Linked DNA regions of Homo sapiens: region 1 is linked to region 2. The links come from fine-mapping of genetic effects on gene expression. Tissue or cell type: whole blood. Region 2 holds a variant in brackets; the other region holds the start of a gene. All regions are shown on one strand. Distances are between the middles of the regions.

Evidence for each region. PIP is the estimated chance that this variant, and not a neighbour inherited with it, causes the effect.
Region 1: it holds the start of AXIN2, and the variant in region 2 is fine-mapped to the expression of AXIN2 in whole blood (INTERVAL, PIP above 0.99). The same link has a PIP of 0.9 or more in T cells.

What each region holds. Positions count from the first base shown.
Region 1 is chr17:65,557,853-65,567,204 of GRCh38, forward strand. AXIN2 (axin 2) reads right to left here and starts at 3,796. Exons shown (of 11, transcript NM_004655.4): 1 at 3,598-3,796; 2 at 1-884. The coding sequence starts at 768. RefSeq lists a silencer at 3,810-3,959.
Region 2 is chr17:65,534,684-65,545,792 of GRCh38, forward strand. AXIN2 (axin 2) reads right to left here. Exons shown (of 11, transcript NM_004655.4): 4 at 6,772-6,874; 5 at 3,520-3,660; 6 at 2,641-3,152; 7 at 2,186-2,380; 8 at 1,637-1,870; 9 at 943-1,038. Among named protein-coding and RNA genes, the nearest start is that of AXIN2, 21 kb to the right of the region's middle. RefSeq lists a silencer at 7,974-8,174. The variant C/A (reference allele first, on the strand shown) is at 3,737.

The sequences.
Region 1 (9,352 bases), 22 kb after region 2:
CCTCAGAGTTTTGCTGGACAAGCCAACCACGGTTGGCGAAAGTTTGCACTTGAAGTCGGCACAAGTCCACTCCTCTTCTTCATTCAAGGTGGGGAGATAGCCACACACGACCTTTAGGCTCCCGAGTCCCCCATTACTCATGTAAGCTGTGTTTTCTCCCCCACTCCTCACATATTCGAGGTATATATCAGAAGTCAAAAACATCTGGTAGGCATTTTCCTCCATCACCGACTGGATCTCGGTCTGCGCCTGGTCAAACATGATGGAATCAATCTGCTGCTTCTTGATGCCATCTCTTATGTAGGTCTTGGTGGCAGGCTTCAGCTGCTTGGAGACAATGCTGTTGTTCTCAATGTACCTTTTGTAGATCGCTTTGGCTACTCGTAAAGTTTTGGTATCCTTCAGGTTCATCTGCCTGAATCCATTGCAGGCAAACCAGAAGTCTAAGGTATCCACGCATTTCTCCCTCTCCAGGAAAGTTCGGAACAGGTAAGCACCGTCTTGATCGCCCAATAAGGAGTGTAAGGACTTGGTCCACCGGGTCAGAGGGGAATCCGGAGATGCCCGCCCCTCCGGCTCCCCCAACCCATCTTCGTTCCGCCTGGTGTTGGAAGAGACAGGCATGGGTTTGGTGACCTGGCCCTTGCCCACCCCTGGCTGACACGGTGGGGTCTCCCCTTCTTCCCCTGGCACTGGGGGCCGCGGGGCATCCTCACGGAAGCTGCTGCTGGGGTCCGGGAGGCAAGTCACCAACATAGCGCTACTCATGGTGAGGGAGCTCTTCCCACTGAGTCTGGGAATTTTTCTTCTTCCAGTTCCTCTCAGCAATCGGCGTGGTCTCTCTGTCTCTCTCAAGTCAGCAGGGGCTCATCTGAACCTCCTCTCTGGAAAGAAAAGGAAGGGGGGAGGTGGGGAGAGAGAAAAGGGTATTGATCTAATCAAAACCAGATCTACCCAACATCAAAGCAAGAAAGTAAACAGGCTTTTCAACTCCTCAAATTCAAATCAAGCAACCCAGCTATCTGCGAGGTGCTCATCTAAAGTATCAGGCGCTGCTTTTCAAAAGCGAAATCTGAGCTCCCTGCACACTTTTCGGGGTTGGGGGTGGGAGGGAGCTGTTGGGAAAGAGGCGGGGAAGGTGAGAGGAAGGCAAGAGCTGGGGACGGCAGGGGGACACTGGAGGTGTAAGACACAACCTTCCAAAAACCCACTCGGCCAGGGCGCACGCAGGGCAGCTCAGCCCGCGCCTCGCCTTCCCTCCCTTCCCCTCCCCCGATACCATCAACTCCAAAAAGGCGCACTCCCAGCCGCTAGGCTGTGTGCAGGTGAAACCAATTTCGGTATATTTCCCCACTCGGCCCTGCACAGATAACTCGAGCTCCAAACGTGCCCTTCCCCGGCATCTGGTTCCCATTCTCCCCACCCACCCCCTCCCTCTGCGCTCCCTCTTCCCACTCCTTAAAAATTCAGAAGATCCTGGCCCAAGAGAAGCCCGCCCAGCATAGGCGGATTGGGCTCCCGGACTCCCAGATTCAGCACGCAAACACCCCCTCCCCAACTCAGATTTGAGTGTTCGCTACGCGCCCCCTACCCCCACCAAGAATCCAGCTCAGTCAACACCTCTGTCTTCCCTGACCTCCCCCCAAACCAGAAACCAACTCACTCAGGGGAGACTTTCATCTTCAAACTTTGAGAGAGAGCTGAGAAGCCTCGGAACCGTCGCCCCCGTGCCCCCAACCCACCTCCCGGATCCGCGAAACCTACAAAACTGGATCACCAGCCGTCTCACGCCACTACTGCCTGTGCCAAGAATCCCAAACTCTACTGATTTCAAGCCTGTCTTTTTTCCAAAGAAAAAAGTCTTATCTAACCAATAAACAAGCTGCTTTCCCTAGCACGGAAAAGATCAAACTAAGAAGGGTAGGGGCTGAACGGGGTGCAACCCCGGGCGAGAAGCCAGGGACCCCGGATCTGGGATGGGTGCACGCTGAACCCGACCAGAGCCTCGAGCCGCGGGGCTGGGCGGCGCGGCCCACGGAGAAGTGGGGCTGCCGTTGGCACCGCGCTACCCGGGCGGTGGGAGGTGGAGCGGCCCCGTTACCTGGAAGACGAAGGCCGCCGAAGCCAGGCTCTCATGTCCTCCGAGCCCCTCCGGCCCGGTCCCCCGGCCCAAATGCAACTGAACGCCTCCAGAGCCCTGGCGGGCACACCTCGAGGCCGGAACCCCGGGACACGCCAGCAGCGCCCCGAGCCCGGGCGGGGGGTCGGTCCCCGGCGCCGCCGTTTGCAGAGGCGCCCGCAGAAAAAGCACAGAAAGCAGCAGCCTAGTCCAGAAATGGCGACGCGCGGAGTCTCTGCCTCTCCGCAAAAGGGGCCGGGGCGGCCACGGGCGAGGGGCCCGGGCCGGGAGGAGGGACGCGAGGGACACGGGCGCCCCGGACTTGGGCCGGTCCTGCGCGCAGACTGAGCCTCCGCCAGCGCTGTGGGCCCCTTAGCGCGGACCCGCGGCAGGGAGGGGAAAAGGGGAGGGGGAAGAGAAGTAGGAGGAGAGGATGGGGCGGAGGAGAGGCGGGGGGCGGGGGAGGGCAAGCGGGGGGCGCCGCTACCCTTTCATCCCACCTCCCAAAGGCACTCCCGCGCGCACTCACACGCCGACTCACATCCATAACCGCGACAGCGACGCGACCCCCGGGGGGTATCTGCCCCCTCTCCGCCCCCGCCACTGCCGCCACTCGGATAAGTCTCCTCTCTGGGCCCCCCGCCAACCCGGTCACCGCGCTGGGGAGGGGGCTCCGGCGCAGGGCGCGCAAGGCTGCCCGGCCAAGCCCCCCGGAACGCTGGGCGCCGGGTCCGCCGCTCCCCTCCGCGCCGGCCCCTAGCGCGCCCCGAAATAGCCGGCCTGCCAACTTCAAAGGGCCGCCCCGCACATCAAAGCGCGCGGTCCGCCCGGCCGCCTCGGCCTCGGCACTCACCATTGATCCCCGCGCGCGCTCGGCGGCGAGACCTCGCAGGCGCCCCTGGCAGGGGCCCGGCCCCGGCCCCCGGCTCGGCTCGCGGCGGCAGCCCCGGGCCCCCCCGGGCCGGCCGCGGCGTCGGGGAACATGGGGAGTCGTGCGGCGGGGGAGGGGGTGCGGGAAACAACAATCCCGGGTTCAGAGCGAAAGCCACCGGCCGGGGAGGGGGAACGGCGCGCCCCGCCGCCCCTTTTATGCAAAAGATCCGAGCGGGCCTCCGCCCCCGCCCGGCCCGGCTTTCAACGCAGGTCCTGTTTCCAGCAGTCACTCGGCGCACCAAATGTCCTCCGGGCGCTTCCAACAAAAACTGCGCTGTGGATTTAACTGTGCACTTCAAAGGCGCGAGCCGAGCGCACGGTCCTGAAAGGGAGGTACGCGCCGGCCGCGCCCCGGGCCGCCCCCCGCAGCCCCGCCACCGCTCCGCAGGGCCGCCCCGCCCGCGCCCCCCTCCAGGCCCGGCCTCCGCCTGGCCGGGCCCCCTCCCGCCCCCCGCGCCCACGCCGCGGCTCGGCGCGACCTCGCCCCCTGTAAGAGGGGGGCTTTCTTTGAAGCGGCTCCGCTGGGGCCGAGCTTCCACCCCCACCTTTTACAGCAGGGCCTTCGGCGGGCGCCTCGGCCGCCGGGCGGCCCCGAAATCCATCGCTCTGAGGGGTTATTTTTATTTCCCGGCTCTCGGGCTGTTACTGAGTTGCCAGGACCTTATCAAAGCGCAGCCGGCTCCAGCCGACTCCCCCGGGCCAGGCTCGCGGAGCCAGTGATCCCGCCGCGCCAATCACAGCCGCGCTCGGCCGGCCCGCGCCGCCCGCCTTAAAGGGACAGCGCCCCGCGCCCGCCCCGCCCCGCCCCGGCCCGCCCCCGCCGCACGCTCCGCTCCCGCGTTAACCCTTCCCCGGCCTCTCCTCCGCCCCCTGCCAGCCCCCCGCGGCCCCGAGGGCATTCTCAGCCCGAGTTCTGATTTCTTCTTTTAAGTTCTCCGGCCTCTTTGCTCCCGCCTCCTCCCCCTGCCTGCCCTCGCTCTCCCCGGCTCTGGAATGCAACAGTTTCTGGTAGCATTATGGCCATCGCAAGAACTGCAAGCAAGCAGATTTTTTTTTTTCTATCATCAAACGCTTTTCTACCTCTATTCAAGTTTCCCTGGGAATTTGGGCTTGGAGGACTTTATAAAGGGAGTTCCGGCCCTGGGGTTGGCTGGCCCGCTGTCATAGGGCGGACTCGGGCCCAGCCGCTGGAGGCGTGTGCATGCCTGTGCGCGCTTGTGCACGTGCATCTGAGTTCGGGTAAATATAGGACTGCAGTTGGTGGATGAATTGCGTTTGTGCATGTGTGAAAGTGGGGTGTGAATCCGCCAGTATAGGCCTGAGTGCTAACACCAGTTAGGAGGCATACCTCAGTGCCCTGAAGACCTAGGTCCAGCTTCCTAACCTGCTGGCCATAAGACCCTCGTAGCGGCACACATTGGCCATCTCTCCCAAACAACTGCATACCCGTTACTCTTCCAAAGTCCCCTCTTCTGCCATATGTTACATATTAAACCGATAGGAATATCTTTTTTCCCACTCCAAACGACAAGGCATGCATGCCGTTTTAATGTATCGAAAACTCCTCACCCCATTGTCACCTTTGAATTTCTCCCACATTTGCCCAAAAACGTTTATAAGGCACACACAACCTTCTCTTCTCCGTTAAAATGAGAAAATATGTCACAAACCCAGAGCATTGTGTATTTATTCTGCTGCTGCTATAGAATGATTCCTTATGTTATGAGCGAATAATTAACTTTTCTTCCTTTTAAAAAACAAAGGGCCGGGGACGGTGGCTCATGCCTGTAATCCCAGCATTTTGGGAGGCCCATGCTGGAGGATCATCTGAGGTCAGGAGTTCGAGACCAGCCTGCCTAATATGGCGAAACCCCGTCTCTACTAAAAATACAAAAATCAGCCGGGTGTGGTGGCACGTGCCTGTAGTCCCAGCTACTCGGGAGGCTGAGGCAGGAGAATCGCTTGAACCTAGGAGACGGGGGTGGGGGGGTTGCAGTGAGCCAAGATGGCACCACTGCACGCCAGGCTGGGTGACAAAGCGAGACTCCCTCAAAAAAAAAAAAAAAAAACACACACACACACACACATAAAGGTGTGAACCAAAGAGATCCAAGAAGTGAAAGGCAGAGTCCTGGCCTCAGAGCTGTGCAAGGCTCTTACTCTCCAACTTAATGGATGACGAGCCCTTTTAAATGCGAGATGGCCTGTCATTAGGCCTTCAGAACTTTAAAACATGCAAGAATTGTGGCTCTATCTAGGTATCCATAGAAAAAGAGAAGGAAGAGGCTGGGTGTGGTGGCTCACCCGTGTAATCCCAGCACTTCGGGAGGCCAAGGCAGGCGGATCACCTGAGGTCAGGCATTCGAGACCAGCCTGGCCAACATAGTGAAACCCTGTCCCTACTAAAACTACAAATATTAGCCAGGCGTGGTGGGGGGCGCCTGTAGTCCCAGCTACTCGGGAGGCTGAGGCAGGAGAATCATTTAAACACAGGAGGTTAAGGTTGCAGTGAGCCTGGGCGACAGAGCAAGACTCCATCTCAAAAAAAAAAAAGAAAAGAAAAAAAGAGGAGGAAGATCCACCACCCATGATCTGCTGGAAAGGGGCAGGTGGCAGGACTGTGCGCCACCTGCCCTCAGCCTAAGGGACTGTGACAAGGGACTAGAAAGCTCTTAGACTTTCTAGTCTAAGACTCTGGACTCTGGCTCGTGGGTGCCATGACAGGTGGCCGCTCCTCCCCAAAACCTGCCTTTCGGTGCCCATGGTCTGCAGCTCCAGGCTCTCGACCCCAGGCAGCCAGGTTGGCATAAAGACAGCAGTACCAGCCCTGAAATGTGGCCCTGAAGCCAGCCAGGAAGGCCAGGGAAAGAGTGTGGCCCGATGACTCATCTTTGCCTTAGGACAACTGCTGGTGTGAGGAAACCAGTGGGCTCTAAAAGCCCCGGCCTGCTGGTATTCTGGGGGGTCAGTGGCCCATGGACCCTCTTAGCCACCAGCTCTGAGCTGGCCCAGGGCCAAGAACACAGCCACCACCTTTGGCCACCCCAGGAGTGCCAAGAGTAAAACTGTCACTGTGGTTCCAGGGAGTCTTTGGGCCACAGAGGGTGTTATTACTGGAACAGAAATGTAGACAGAGGGGTATGGATTGCCATAAAAGTGTCTACCATATAAACAACAGTAAAGTCACACACACACACACACACACACACACACACACACACACACACACAATGTGGGGGGTGGGGGAGAGAGAAAAATCAAAACATCTAAAATCAAAATAAACAATGTTCAGAAAAAAGAGGTTTTCAAAAAGGAAGTGGAAACTTGGTCTTTGTGGGTGGTTTTCCTCTCCTCCCAGTTGTCCCCACCGACCCGTCACTGCCTCCCCCAACCAGCCCTAATCACTGTAGGCTCAACTTTAACCAAAGGACTACCTCATTATCCCATGGCTGCGACTGTAGCAAGAGGGGACTGGGACTGGGACTGGGGACCCAGGAGCAAGGCCCGGTTTGGTTTGGATCTTCTCGGTCAATAATAACTGCTCTGAGGGCCGGGGTGCAGTGGCTCATGCCTGTAATCCCAGCACTTTGGGAGGCCAAGGCAGGTGGATCACCTGAGGTTAGGAGTTCGAGACCAGCCTGACCGACATGGAGAAACTCCTTCTCTACTAAAAATACAAAATTAGTCAGGCATGGTGGCGCATACCTGTAATCCCAGCTACTTGAGAGGCGGAGGCAGGAGAATCGCTTGAACCCAGGAGACGGAGGTTGTGGTGAGCCGAGATCGTGCCATTGCACTCCAGCCTGGGCAACAAGAGCAAACTCCGTCTCAAAAAATAAATAAATAAAAAATAACTCCTCTGAGAGCATGGTTTCCAGAACAGGTGCTCGGGTCACTTTAGGGCAGTGACTCCCTCCACCATCACCCCTGGCCTGTCCCCTTTCCTACAGCTTTATATCTGGTGGGACACTTCCCTCCCAGCAGGAGGCTGGGCCAAGTACTGGAAAGCCCTCTCTCTAGCCTCTGGGTCTCTGACTACTTGTTGATAATATTTCTAGAGGAGAATCCAAAGTCCTGTGCTTATAGCAGCCCGTTTCTCAAGATAGCACGTTTTCCATTTTCCCCTTGTCCCTGGCAGCAGCGCTATCATGTGACTTGTTGTAATCCTGCACGGTTGCCTGGAAACTGGAAAGCAAGGTGATGGATTTCTGCACATGCTCACTCGCCCCCCCGCTCCACCTTTAAAGAAAAACCCTACGGAGGATAAACAGTCCACTTTGCCTAAGTGCAGACAAGTTTAATAAAGCAGAGAGTGATTCTTTGCTGGAATTATATACTGGGCTGAAATCCTAGAATCCCAGAAAACAAGGACTAAGGGCTCCCTGGGAGGCATCTGGCCAGATCTCTGACCTTTAGTCAGCCCCACAAAAACCACTGTGGAGGGGAAGTCACACCAGCTGGGACTTCAGAGGAGCTGAGACCCAGGACACTGCTCTCTCAGATTCAGTAACTTTGTCTTTTATTCCTTTGGAAAAGTGCTGCCTTAGACAATGTACCTTTGTTTGGGGAGGAAGGTGAAGAGAGACACAGGTAACCTTTCCTAAGACTGGAGGTTACCTAACCACACGGAGTTTCCATTTGTTCACCTGTAGACTGGAGGAAACCTCCCCTGCAAAGGCTGTTGTGAGCCTGAGCAATACGATAAATGCCTGGCACAGAGCTGGACACACAATAGAACATGGCGGTTATTTTCACAGAGTAAGTCTGTTCCCTCAATAGCCTGTTACCTATTCTGGGAAGAAACTCCCTATCTCCAAAGCAAAGATACCGTCCATTGGGAGTGACGATCTGGGGAAGAATGACCCCAGGAGGCTGACCATAGGGGGCCTAAAGGAGATAAAGGAGGCTGTGCCCTGCTACCATCTTTCAAGGATAGTCCTATGCAGAAAGAAATAAGCCCAGGGGCCATTCAAGAGTTATCTAGTCCAACCCTTCATTTAAGAAACCAGACAAATTGGCTGGGTGTGGTGGCTCACACCTGTAATGCCAGCACTTTGGGAGGCTGAGGTGGGCAGATCACCTGAGGTTAGGAGTTCGAGACCAGCCTGTCCAACATGGTGAAACCCTGTCTCTACTAAAATTACAAAAATTAGCTGAGCATGGTGATGCATGCCTGTAATCCCAGCTACTCGGGAGGCTGAGGCAGGAGAATCGCCTGAACCCGAGAGGCAGAGGTTGCATTGAGCGGAGACTGCGCCATTGCACTCCAGCCTGGGCAACAAGAGCGAAACTCTGTCTCCAAAAAAGAAAGAAAGAAAGAAAGAAATCAGACAAATTAAGCAAAGAGAAAGTGAGATTTCCCCAGGATCACTTTGCCCATATCAGAGATGAGCTGGAACTTCTGAGGGGTCCTGACTCCTGGCCCAGCCTCTTTTTCCTCCACACCATAGTGAGGAGACCCAGGGAGGGGCTGGCTGAGATGGAGGGGGTGAGACCATCTGGAGGTCTTGACTTTTACAACAGGACTAATACATACAATCTGGGATACTTTCCTGAAAGAATCACAACAGGGCTTCTGTCTGAAATCCCTCTAAGGCACGCTTCATCCAGCCCCTACCTGTAGGTAGGTTGCCTTGGCTCTGCCAGCTGGGCTACCCACAGCCTGATCTGGGACAGTTTGACCCACGTCTTTTAGAGTGGCAGCCATTTACATGGGCATCTCCGTGGAGTTGATCCACCTAAGGAGGAATGGACCTACTTCCTCTCCCCTTTGCAGAGGAGGGACTGGGAATGCCAAGGTGGAGATTTTGAAGCCACAAGGGGAAAAGTAAGGTTTCCCTAAGAAATCCCATCTTCAAGGCCAGGTGCAGTGACTCACACCTGTAATCCCAGCGCTTTGGGAGCCCAAGTAGGTGGATCAGCTGATGTCAGGAGTTCAAGACCAGCCTGGCCAACATGGCAAAACCCCATCTCTACTGAAAATACAAAAATTAGCCTGGTGTGGTGGCAGACACCTGTAATCCCAGCTACTCGGGAGGCTGAGGCAGGAGAATCATTTGAACCCAGGAGGCAGAGGTTGCAGTGAGCCGAGATCGTGCCACTGCACTCCAGCCTGGGCGACAGAGTGAGACTCTGCCTCAAAAGAAAAGAAAAGAAATCCCATCTTCAGAAGTGTTGGGGGAATTTATTTGTTGATAAAATATCTTTTTTTAATATGAAATTTAAAACACAGTTAAACAGTAATTTAAAACTTCCTAATTGGACTGACTTTCAAGTGCTTTTATTATGGATTGTAAATAG
Region 2 (11,109 bases):
TTTGGGAGGCCGAGGTGGGCGGATCACTTGAGGTCAGGAGTTTGAGACCAGCTTGGCCAACATGGCGAAACCCTGTCTCTACTAACAATACAAAAAAGGAGCTGGGTGTGGTGGTGGGCGCCTGCAATCCCAGCTACTCGGGAGGCTGAGGCAGGAGAACTGCCTGAACCCAGGAGGCGGAGGCTGCAGTGGGCCAAGATTAAGCCACTGCACTCCAGCCTGGGCAACAGGGCGAGACTCTGTCTCAAAAAGAAAAAAAAAAGTGGCTGGCCCAGACCCAGAGAGCTGGTACACTTAGGGTCAACCAATTGAAACAATGAAAGGGTCCAGGGCAGTGGCCTATTGAGGACTTCAAACATTGCTCATTGCTCAGGATGAAGACACTAAGAAAGAAAACTTGATACAGACCATTTTAGATCTCTTTAGCAGATTTCTTTTTAATTGCACCATCCAGTAATTAAACGAGCAGGCTCCTCAACCTACTTTGAAAGAGACTAAATTTACAAAAAGAATCACTGCCCAATTTGGGGGAAGATATTCTGTCTTCTCCAAACAAAAACACAAGGATGGTCCCCTCCACCTCTGCCACAGTGGAGAATGATCTTTCTGCTCAGGGGTGACAAATGTTTCCAGTACTACTAAATTGCAAGTTGAATGGGGGCAACTTTTCCAGCTGAATTTGAGGTCCCTTCTACACTTCTGCTAATGGCTTCATGTCCCAGCTTTTGATTTGTGTATGACCAGAAAAACTTTTGCTATGATGCATTTGTCGGCAGGACATGGATGGCAACATCTACGTTTACTGTTCCTCATCACTAGCGCTAAAATCAAAGTGATTTTAAAAACCAAAAAAAGTTTCATGAAAATGAAACTCCAGATAGCGAATATTCTGAAACATAAAGCACTCGGCAGATCTCAGTAATGTCAGGTAAAGACACTCACTCTTCTGGAGCCAGGCTTGGATTGGAGAAGGGTGTGGCTCCCGTCTGAACAGTGGCCGAATGATTCCTGTCCCTCTGCTGACTGGCCACACAGCACCTGAGGACACAGCCAGGGCGAGGGATTTAGAGGTACACTGTTGTCCCCAGAGCAATTGAAAAGCAGACAGAAAATTACTATTTGGCCTCCTGAAGAGACACGAACCCGACTTCCATCCTTACGGAGACCCAACCAAGACCCTGGGTTAACAGTGGCTGAAGAGGCCAGGAAGACGTCTTGGAACAGCCATTCTAAGCCCCCCTGGGAGCCCAGGATGGGACATTCTCAGCCCCAGCAAAGGGCTGAGGACTCTTGATCCTCCATCTCACAGCTTCTTATATACTCAACTAACCAGCCTTAAACAATCAAGACATTTGTAAGGAATGGGATTTGTAAGCAATTGCTGAAATTCATTCTCCCAATTCTAGGCATGACTTGCCTCACAGATCCTGGCTTAACTCTAGTAGAATGAACATAACTGAAGGGAACAATTTCTAGAAGCTGGAAAGCAGCAGCTTACTCATCCATAAGTAATTCTTCTTCTCATGGGAGGGTTTGAGACCCAGGCAGAAAGAGAGGCCCTCCCCATTAGCCACAGACCAGGTCTCCACCCAAACCCAATCCCTGCCTCAACCTAGGACCCTTCACTTCCACTCACCGCTGCTTTGGGGGCTTCGACACCTCAGCTAGCCTGCGACAGGCCTCCTCCAGCTGAGCCAGCGTGTTGGGTGGGGTCAGGGGAGGCATCGCAGGGTCCTGGGTGAACAGGTGGGCACGGGGGGTGGTGCGGGGGTGCCCGCTGTTGCCCCCCCACAGATGGTGCCGGCTGGCTCGTTCGCCTGGAGACGAGCGGGCAGACTCCAAGGGGTAGGCCTTTTTTGTGCTTTGGGCACTAAACAAGGAATGAGCAGAGAGAAAACAGAAGGAAAGAAACTGGGTTAGAAGAACTGGAAAATGTGACTTCAATAGAAACTTGTCTATTCTGCTCAGAGAGAGAGTTAAAAAAAAAACTACCATAACATGAACAGGGGTCAGTGCCAAAACATGACATTTTTGTGGTCTGCTCAGTCCAACGTTTAATATTAAGATGGCAGGAGCAAATAGTCACATTTGTATTCCGCGGACTGCAAAAACAGCCATTCCCACAATACCTCCGTACTGAGTGCCCATGACCCTCGCGGCCGCGGCGGCGGCAAGCGGTGTTTACCTATGGGGCTTGGGCTTGCTCTGCCGCTCACTCTCCAGCATCCACTGCCAGACATCCTGCGACCTGTCTCCTTCCTCCCGGGGAAGCTGCAGGGCCCCAGCTCCGCCGGGGGCCCCTCCTTCCCTGGCGGGCAGGGCCAGGCCCGGCTCCGTGCCTTTCCCATTGCGTTTGGGCAAGGTACTGCCTCTGCTGCCGCTGTGGGGAACCAAGAACCACACCCAACCCAGAGACCCGGTTAAATCTCCGGGACTCCTAGAATCAGACAATTCAGCAAGTCGGGGGGCTGGTGACACGAAAGACCCATGCACCTGCTCCCCGCACCCTCACCCGGCCGTGCACTCTGCCGCCCTCTTAGAAACTAAATGCCTGTAATGCGGCTCCCACCTCACACCTGCCCATGGACCTGGCTGGGAGACAAGCCCCACACGGGACACTGCGGTCCGCCCGGCACTTACCCAAACTGCTCGCTGGGCATGGTTTCCGGAGCCTTGGAGTGGCTTTTGCATTTCGAGTAGCAGTAATACTCGCTGCCCCCAGGGCAGAAGCAGTGCACCCGCTGCGTGGCCTCCGCCTCGATCTCCTCCTTGGTCTTGGGGACGGCATGGTGGTGGATGTAGTGGTGGTGGACATGCTTCGTCGTCTGCTTGGTCACAAAGCCTTTGCCCCCGAGGAGGGGGCAGGCGCCCGGCGAGGCGGCCGCGGGAGGCAGCTTGCCACCGGGCGGGAGCAGGGAGTGGTACTGCGAATGGTGGTGGTGGTGGTGGTCCGGGGAGCGGGAGCGGGGGCTATAGCGGCCTACGCCTGGAGACTGGCAGCCAGGGGTCTTGAGGACCCTGGACAGGTGATCGTCCAGTATCGTCTGCGGGTCTTCCTCGTAGCTGCCGGAGGGCAGTAGGGAGAGGGGGTGCTGCGTGGGCGCCCCCTCCCGCGAATTGAGTGTGAGCTCGGAGCCCTCTCTCTCTTCATCCTGAAAGGGAAGACGTCAGAAGGAGAAGTGACCCAGGAAGCAGAAGGGCCAGAGGCCCTGGGGTTGCAACATTCGGCTCCCTACGCAGGAGCACGCACACCCGTGTGCACGCCCACAGCCACGCCCATGCGCACACGCACAGGCCCGCCTACACAAGCACATATCCACACGCATATGCACACCCACACGCAACCCATGCACATGCGCACACAGCCCACGCCCAGGCACACACCCACACGCAGCCCACGCGCATGCGCATGCAACCCACGCACATGCGCACACCCTAACGCACCCCATGCACATGCGCATACACATACGAGCGCTCACGCCGTGGACGGAAGCAGGAAGAAGGCCTAGGCCGCATTACCTCTCGGATCTGCTGCAGGCGCTCCTCCAGGCTGTGGCGGCTCTCCAACTCCAGCTTCAGCTTTTCCAGCCTCGAGATCAGCTCAGCTGCAAAGGTGGCGGGTTCCACGGGGGTCATCTCCTTGGGCAGGCGGTGGGTTCTCTACAGGACGTGGAAAGGAAAGGGAGGAGGCACGTTCAGCAGGCTAGGTGGGCGGTGGCTTGGCCGGAGCTTCCCG[C/A]ACCAGGCGCTGTGCACCGCAAACCCATGTTCGGGTGTAGAGTGGATGGCAAGGCGGCCTGGGCTGCTCGGGACTTTTATGCGCTAGCGCCATGGCCTCATGGAGAGCCATGGTCCCCACCAGCGTTTGCCTTGGGCAGGAGCAGTTGGTCGCACTCCGAGAGGCCCTGCTTGTTCTTTCTGTAGTACAACCAGCCCATCAGTAGTTACTTTGAAGTAGAAAATCTTCAAAGACTGTTGTCAACCATCAAAAAAAAAAAAAAAAAAAAAAAAAAAAAAAAAAAAAAGGCAGCCCTCTGAGGTGGGGAGGGGAGAGACCAACTCAAGGAATAGAAAGTAGAATCTAAACAGAAAGAGAGTTGAAAATTTAAAAAAATAAGATTGGAAAGGAGGTGGGAGGAAAGAAAGTGGGGGAAAAGGGAGTCAAACGGCCTGGATCAGAGAAGAAGTGGTAATTTATTTCCTGGCCGCACACTGCGCACCTTTGAGGTGGTGGTGTCTCAACACTGTCCTCGATCTCCCTCGTTTTTCTCCTTCCCTCCTCCCTCTCTCTTTGTACAGAAAATGAAGAAAGCTGCTGCAGGCTAGTAGCAGAACACTGCTGAGCTTGGCTGCCTGAAGCTGATCTATCAAGGGAAAAGGGAACATCTCCAAATCAAGTGCAGAATATAAAAAGGCACCGAGTACGCCTGCCAAAAGCAGCAAACAGAGAGAACCCCTGCTGCCCAGCTTTCTGTCCTTTTCCTGTCATCTCGCTCCCCCCACCCAACCCCCCACCTCTCCAGTTGTTCTACCTCCTTCTTCCTAATCTCCCTCTTGCTTAGCTCCTTTCTTTGGGCTGGGGTGGGGGTAGCAGAAAGCTAACTTGCAAAGGCTAGCATCTCCCCCAGCTGAAAAGATGGGCCTTGCCACGGCAACCACTTAGCTGCAGAAACTGGGGAAGAAGAGAAAGGCTCCTGTGTAGGTGGCCATTCTCACACAGGCTGGCTCCTTGCAGCCCCTGATCAAAGCGCTGCCTGATGGAGAAAGTCGATTTGCACACCCCAGGACAAAATCATCTAATTTACAAGCTTGGGCGATAGAACTTTTCTTTGTTAACTCACATATCCCCCAGTCAAAAAAACAATGATAGTATGTCATCAATACTTGTTATCTGTAGAGGGAGGGGATGCTAGAGGTCCTCAGAAAAGCAATTTTAATATGCTAATTTTAAAACAAGGTAAGTCTGCCCTTGTCTGTGTGAGGAGCTTTCAGAGAAGAGCTATAGTTTGTGCACTAATGCAACATGGGTTTAGCAATTCAATGTGTTAATTTTTTAAACACAACATAACCAGACCAATTAGATTCTCTGAAGCTGGCAGGAAGGATTCATAAACACCTGCTGTGAGCTGGGTGCTTTCTTCCCCTCCCCTCCTTGCAACCTGGATCTGAGGCTGTTGTAAACAGCACAGCCCTAAAATGGGAATGTAGATGGGGAAGTTCTCTTGAGTACAGCCATGTGCTGGCTGCTTTAGCAAGCATGGAAATAAAAGCAGAGGTCCCAGAAGAGCCCTTCATCCACCATCTCAGTCACAGGAAGAAGCTGCTCAGGAGATCCTCACTTCTAAACACTTCGTTCATTCCGCATTTGATAGGCACAGACTCACCAGCAGGTACCAAGCCAAGTTCTGGAGTTGGAAAGGAACAGCTACCCTCCAGGGCTTCAGGAGCCAGGAGGAGAAATGGTCAATGAATACATAAATAAATGACTAAAATCACTGACTAAAATGACTTGGAGTCCTGTGGTTGACACAAGAAGTAGAATGTCCCAGTGAAGAGAGCAGGAGGATGTCCCAAGGGGGGGCAGAGGTTCCTTATTCATTCACTCAAATGTTTATTGAGCACCTATTATGTGTCAGGTACTGTTCTAGTCTCTGTGCATACAGAGGTTAACAGAATAGATAAAACTCCCTCCCATCAGAGGGCTTCCATTCTAGTGGAAATACAGTGAGCTCACCAAGCTGTAGAGAAGCATGGATCATCTAGCATTTCTTAGTTTCTGGGAAATAAGTGCTTCAGTTTCTTTCTGATAGGGAATTTTTTTTTTGAATTCAGAAAATGCAAAGGTTCAAAAATAGGTCATCAAACCTCTCACATAGTTGGGATGCTTGTCCCCTCCAAATCTCATGTTGAAATATGATCCCCAATGGTGGAAGTGCACCTAGTGGGAGGTGTTTCGTGCCCTCCCTGCAGTAATGAGCAAGTTTTCCCTGTAGTTCATATGAGATCTGGTTGTTTGAAAGAACATGGCATTGCCCACCACCCCCCCAACCTCAGCTTGCTGTTTCTCCCGCTATGTTACAAACTGGCTCTCCTTCCCCTTGCGCATCATGATTGAAAGCTCCCTGAGACCTTCACCAGAAGCAGATGTTGGCGCCATGGTTCTTGAATAGCCTGCAGATCCATGAACCAAATAAACCTCTTTTCTTTGTTTTTTCTTTTGAGAAGGAGTCTCGCTCTGTCGCCCAGGCTGGAGTGCACTGGCGTTAGCTCACTACAACCTCCACCTCCCAGGTTCAAGTGATTCCCCTGCCTCAGGCTCCCAAGTAGCTGGGACTACAGGCGCACGTCACCACGCTAGGCTAATTTTTGTATTTTTAGTAGTGGTGGGGCTTCACCATGTTGGCCAGGCTGGGTCTCGAACTCCTGACCTCAGGTGATCTGCCCACCTCCGACTCCCAAAGTGCTGAGATTACAGGCATGAGCCACTGTGCCCAGCCGTAAACCTCTTCTTTTTATAAATTACTCAACCTCAGGTATTCCTTTATAGCAAAACTGACTGATACCTCATAATCACATCACTGTGCTCACCATCACAACCCAAAAAACCATGTAATGCCTATTGTCCAGTTCTTTTCTCTCCCTTTGCCCTAGGGGACCTTAGGTACTGCTCTTTTCTACCTTCCCTATACCTCTCCCCATTCCACCACCCATTTCTTTTCTTTAGGACTCAACATGGCAGAAAACAGCTGTCTCCTCACTCCAGACTGTACTCACCGGGAAATGAGGTAGAGACACTTGGCCATTGGCCTTCACACTGCGATGCATTTCTCTCTGGAGCTGTTTCTTACTGCCCACACGATAAGGAGGAATTCCATCTCTAAGGGAAAGGAAAAGACAGAATCCACAGGCTTACGAGGATGTTTTCAGCACATCACATGGGCTACTGTCATATGCCATCTTGAGATCCCGCCGACAGGGCCACATGCTTCCATAGGAGTGTCACATGTCTCCAGATACCATCGGTGCTCCCACAGGGAAGGACCCACCCAAGGTCAAATTTAAATCCTGCCCATCAATCATCTATGGAAACTTGGCTTCCTTGGATGCAGAAGCATCAACTTGGAAAGAGCCTGGAAAGTTAATCTCTCGGACTGTTGTCTTAGAACTGGGTTACACTCCAGCCAGCCCAGGCAGAGCAAAGGCTCCCCTATTTTACAGGTGCCCTAAGTAGGAGATTCTCAGGCCCCACTGGTCCTCCCACTTGTTCCCACTGCTTCAAACCAGGAACCAGTGCCTTATGGATAGGGCCAGGGCAGAAAGTTGTAGGGATAAGAACCAAACCTACAGAGGGCTAAATCAGGCATTAGTGAAGCATGCATAACTCTCCAAGTCAACCTCCTAGTCATTTCCAAATGTATTTCTTTTTATAAACCAGTACAGCGTGATTAATAAAAAGAATATATAACATTTAGGCCCCTTCTCTCAGCTCCAAACCCTACCACCCCCAACCAATGAATTTTCAAAGACACATGACCAATGTGGGCATGAAGAGAAAAGCCCCTACTATGTGGTGGTCTGTGCAATCCATTTAAAGATTAGCACCTACTATGTGCCAGATCTTCTCCTAGGCACTAGGCAAGAGAGCAGTAGACAAAGTGGATACATAATTCAAACAACTGCCCTCTTGAAGTTTACATTCTAATGGGGAGGCACAGGCAATGAACAAAATAAAAAATAGTATGTTAGTGATATGTACTATGAATAAATACACAGCAGGAAAAGGAGAATCACTGGTGAGTGGGTAAGCTGCAAATTTAAATTGGATGTGGGTGTCAAGTCCTCATTGAGAAAGGGACCTTTGGGCAAAGACCTGAAGAAGTATGGGCCCCTATCCATTATATTTTTAAAAACAAAACATTAACAAGTAGAAGAATTTTTAAAAAGCTGCCACTCCAGCTAGTGTTCACTACAACTATGACCTAGAGTTGCCATGATTTTTTCCAGAAAGAATTTCCTTCTTAAAAGCAGAATGGTCAAGGTGTGACTATTTTCCCATTGATGTCCCTTCAGGAGGCCACTTATTTACAAAAGCCTCAGGGTGCAAACATTTTCATAATGAATCATACTTGGAGGCTGTAAATATTGAAATTGGGTGTTTGGCTACTTCCCTTTCCCCAATGTCTGGTTCATCATAGGGTGGAAGAAAAATAGGATAATTAGCAATGTCTAAAAATACCCAGGGGGCAAGCCAGGAGTAACTAGTCAACCTCTAGCTCCTTATCTGAAATGCCCTAGAATTCTAAATAGCTGCATTTTCAGGAAGTCTACTGACCTAGGTCAGAAAACAGGAACACAAGGGACAATGAAGATTCCAATAGATCAACAAACCAATGTATGTTAACCAAACCCTGGCTAAGGAGTGCATAAACGATAATTGCACTGAGGTGAGTAGGGAAGGGAGAGAAGAGAGATCAGTATCCAGAGCAACAACTTACCCCCAAGTGTGAGTACTGCCCCAAAGAAAGGTAAGTATGGAGCAGAGACAGAGCACTGTGGGAAGGATTCGCAGCAGCTGGCTGACCAGTGCTGGAGAAACACGTCTTCTACTCATGACTGAGAAACAGCCTCCTACTCATGAGGCTCGGCACCTGACCAAGCCCACCTAAAGATTATTTATCAAAACTCTGTGTCTTCACCTTGGGTAGCTGAAAACGGGACTTATAAGCATGCCTGGCTTGACCAGAAACCAAATCGCACCCAAGGCAACTGATGCCAACCTGAGAATGCCAGCTCATAGATACCGAGTCCCTACTGTACGTCAGACATTGGACCTATAATCAGACTTCATTCTCATAAGAACCTTAATGAGCCACATTTTACAGATGACCAGAAATGCTCAATAGCTCACCTAGTGTTACAGTCAGTAGCAGATTGACAACTCATACCCAAGCCACTGCTGGACTCCAGAACAGGCATCTGTAACAACCTACACTTGGTCATTTCAATAAGATGCCCTTCCCAGCCCCAATCAGCAGTCAAGCTTCCTGATGGTCTTAATGTGGAGATGCCATTTCCTAAGCCCCACGCAGTCACCTGACATTGATAAGGCATGAGGGGGAAATTTGTGGAATTTTCTGGGAAGTCCTCCCCAACCACCTAGTACTCACTAGCTATGGGGCTCGCCAGGTGGTTCCCAAGCCATGCTGAATATCCCCATCTCTCACCTAAGATACCTTGTATGGTAGGGGTGGCGGTATCCCACAGATTGGGCTCATGCTGGTCTAACCAAATTCTGCTGCCCTAGGGCTGTAAGACAATGTCTATCCTCCATCTCTCTTCTAGGGACTTAGACAGTGGATGACTCTGCTTCAGCCCTGTTCCTGACAGTCTTGGGGGCAGGAGTCAAGCACTCCATGGACCCCACCATGACACAAGTGACATAAGGCTTCAAGAGTCCTAGAAGAGTCCCCCGTCCACCCCCTCCAAGACTCTTGACATTTCCACTGGTAGCTTTCACTCTTCCTTCTCCCAGATGAAAGTCAGTGGTAGAGCTTTTATGCCTCTTTTTCTTCTTCCATATAATAAGGTTAAAAAAAAAAAACAGGATGGGGGTAGGGATGGGGAGGGGAGTAGATAACTGCAATATTGAAGGCAAAAGGAACAAATGATTTCATAAGCACCTCATACCCCGCCCCCCATCCCCCACCACCACCACCACACACACTCCATTACCCAGGGCAGGTGAAGGACTAAACTGCTGGAAAGGCAACTTGTAACCAGAGCAGAAAAGGAAGATGTCAGCCTGTAGAGGCTCAGAAAGGCTTAACAGGCACCTTCAAGGAAATGTGGCTTTAATTCCCTCCAGCCAAGAATCTTCTTCCAAAACAGCCCCTCATTCCAAAAGGGGGCCTCTCTTCTTTTATTCAAGCTCTAAAAGTCTGTGATCAGTTTCCTGGCTGCTCAAGCCTGTGGGCTGGAGAGCACCAGAGTTGTGGTCCCTATACGGTCTCCTTTAATTATAAACATTTTAGTTAACGAGCCTGCTGCCGGGCCCAGCTGTTTCTGGGGAGCATGGTTTTGAAGTGTGGACTCCACTTAGCTGCCATTTGAGCCGAGCCAATTAGCTTAGCCTTTTGACTCCACCGTGCCCGACCTAACCTGAATGTCATTTTCTGGCGACTTTGAAATAGCAGACTCATGCACACATGCGTCCACTCGCATCTTCATTTGGCAACCACTCTGAAGGCAGCCTCTGATCACAGCCAACATCAAAAGCCTGGTTTGTAGGAAAAGGTTAGTATTTGAAGTTCACTCAGATGCATTTCCTGGTGTCCAAAGTAAACCCCCATAAATAAGATATAAAGAAATACAAATAAATAACTCGCGACATTCCCTGTGTGAAACACCAAAAAATCATCTTGTGCTGATTTGGGGACACTCAGAGCTGAAGCAACATACAAACGTAGCTGATCCTGATTACAAGAGCAACTCCTAGCAGAAAGAAGAGACAAAGGCCTCCACACCACTGACTTAGCTTTCATGATTCCTGGCAACATCTAACCATGGCTACACTTGGGCGGCAAAGAGTCTGCTGCTTCTGACATTTTCACCCTCTTTACTCCATCCTTCTAAGCCTGATGCCCTGGAATGGCCCACAAGCCTTCTGCCTCCAGTGCTGCAAGGATTTTGGTGGGAGTCTGGCAGTTAACGTTAAAAAAATTTTTTTTGGCAGGTTGTGGTGGCTCACGCCTGTAATCCCACCACTTTAGGAGGCCGAGGTGGGTGGGTCACGAAGTCAAGAGATCGAGACCATCCTGGCCAACATGGTGAAGCCCCGTCTCAACTAAAAATAGAAAAATTAGCTGGGCGTGGTGGTGCACGCCTGTAGTCCCAGCTACCCAGGAGGCGGAGGTTCCAGTGAGCCAAGATCGCGCCACTGCACTCCAGCCTGGCAACAGAGTGAGACTCTGTCTCAAAAAAAAATTAAGCCATTTCTTCCGAGAATGCAGGTTTCAGAGTAACAGGCTCATAAAACAGCCTTCTCAGAGGCCCAAATGCCCAGCCATCTTTAACAGGACTTTTTACTTAGCAGGAAAACAGAAGTCAGCAGTA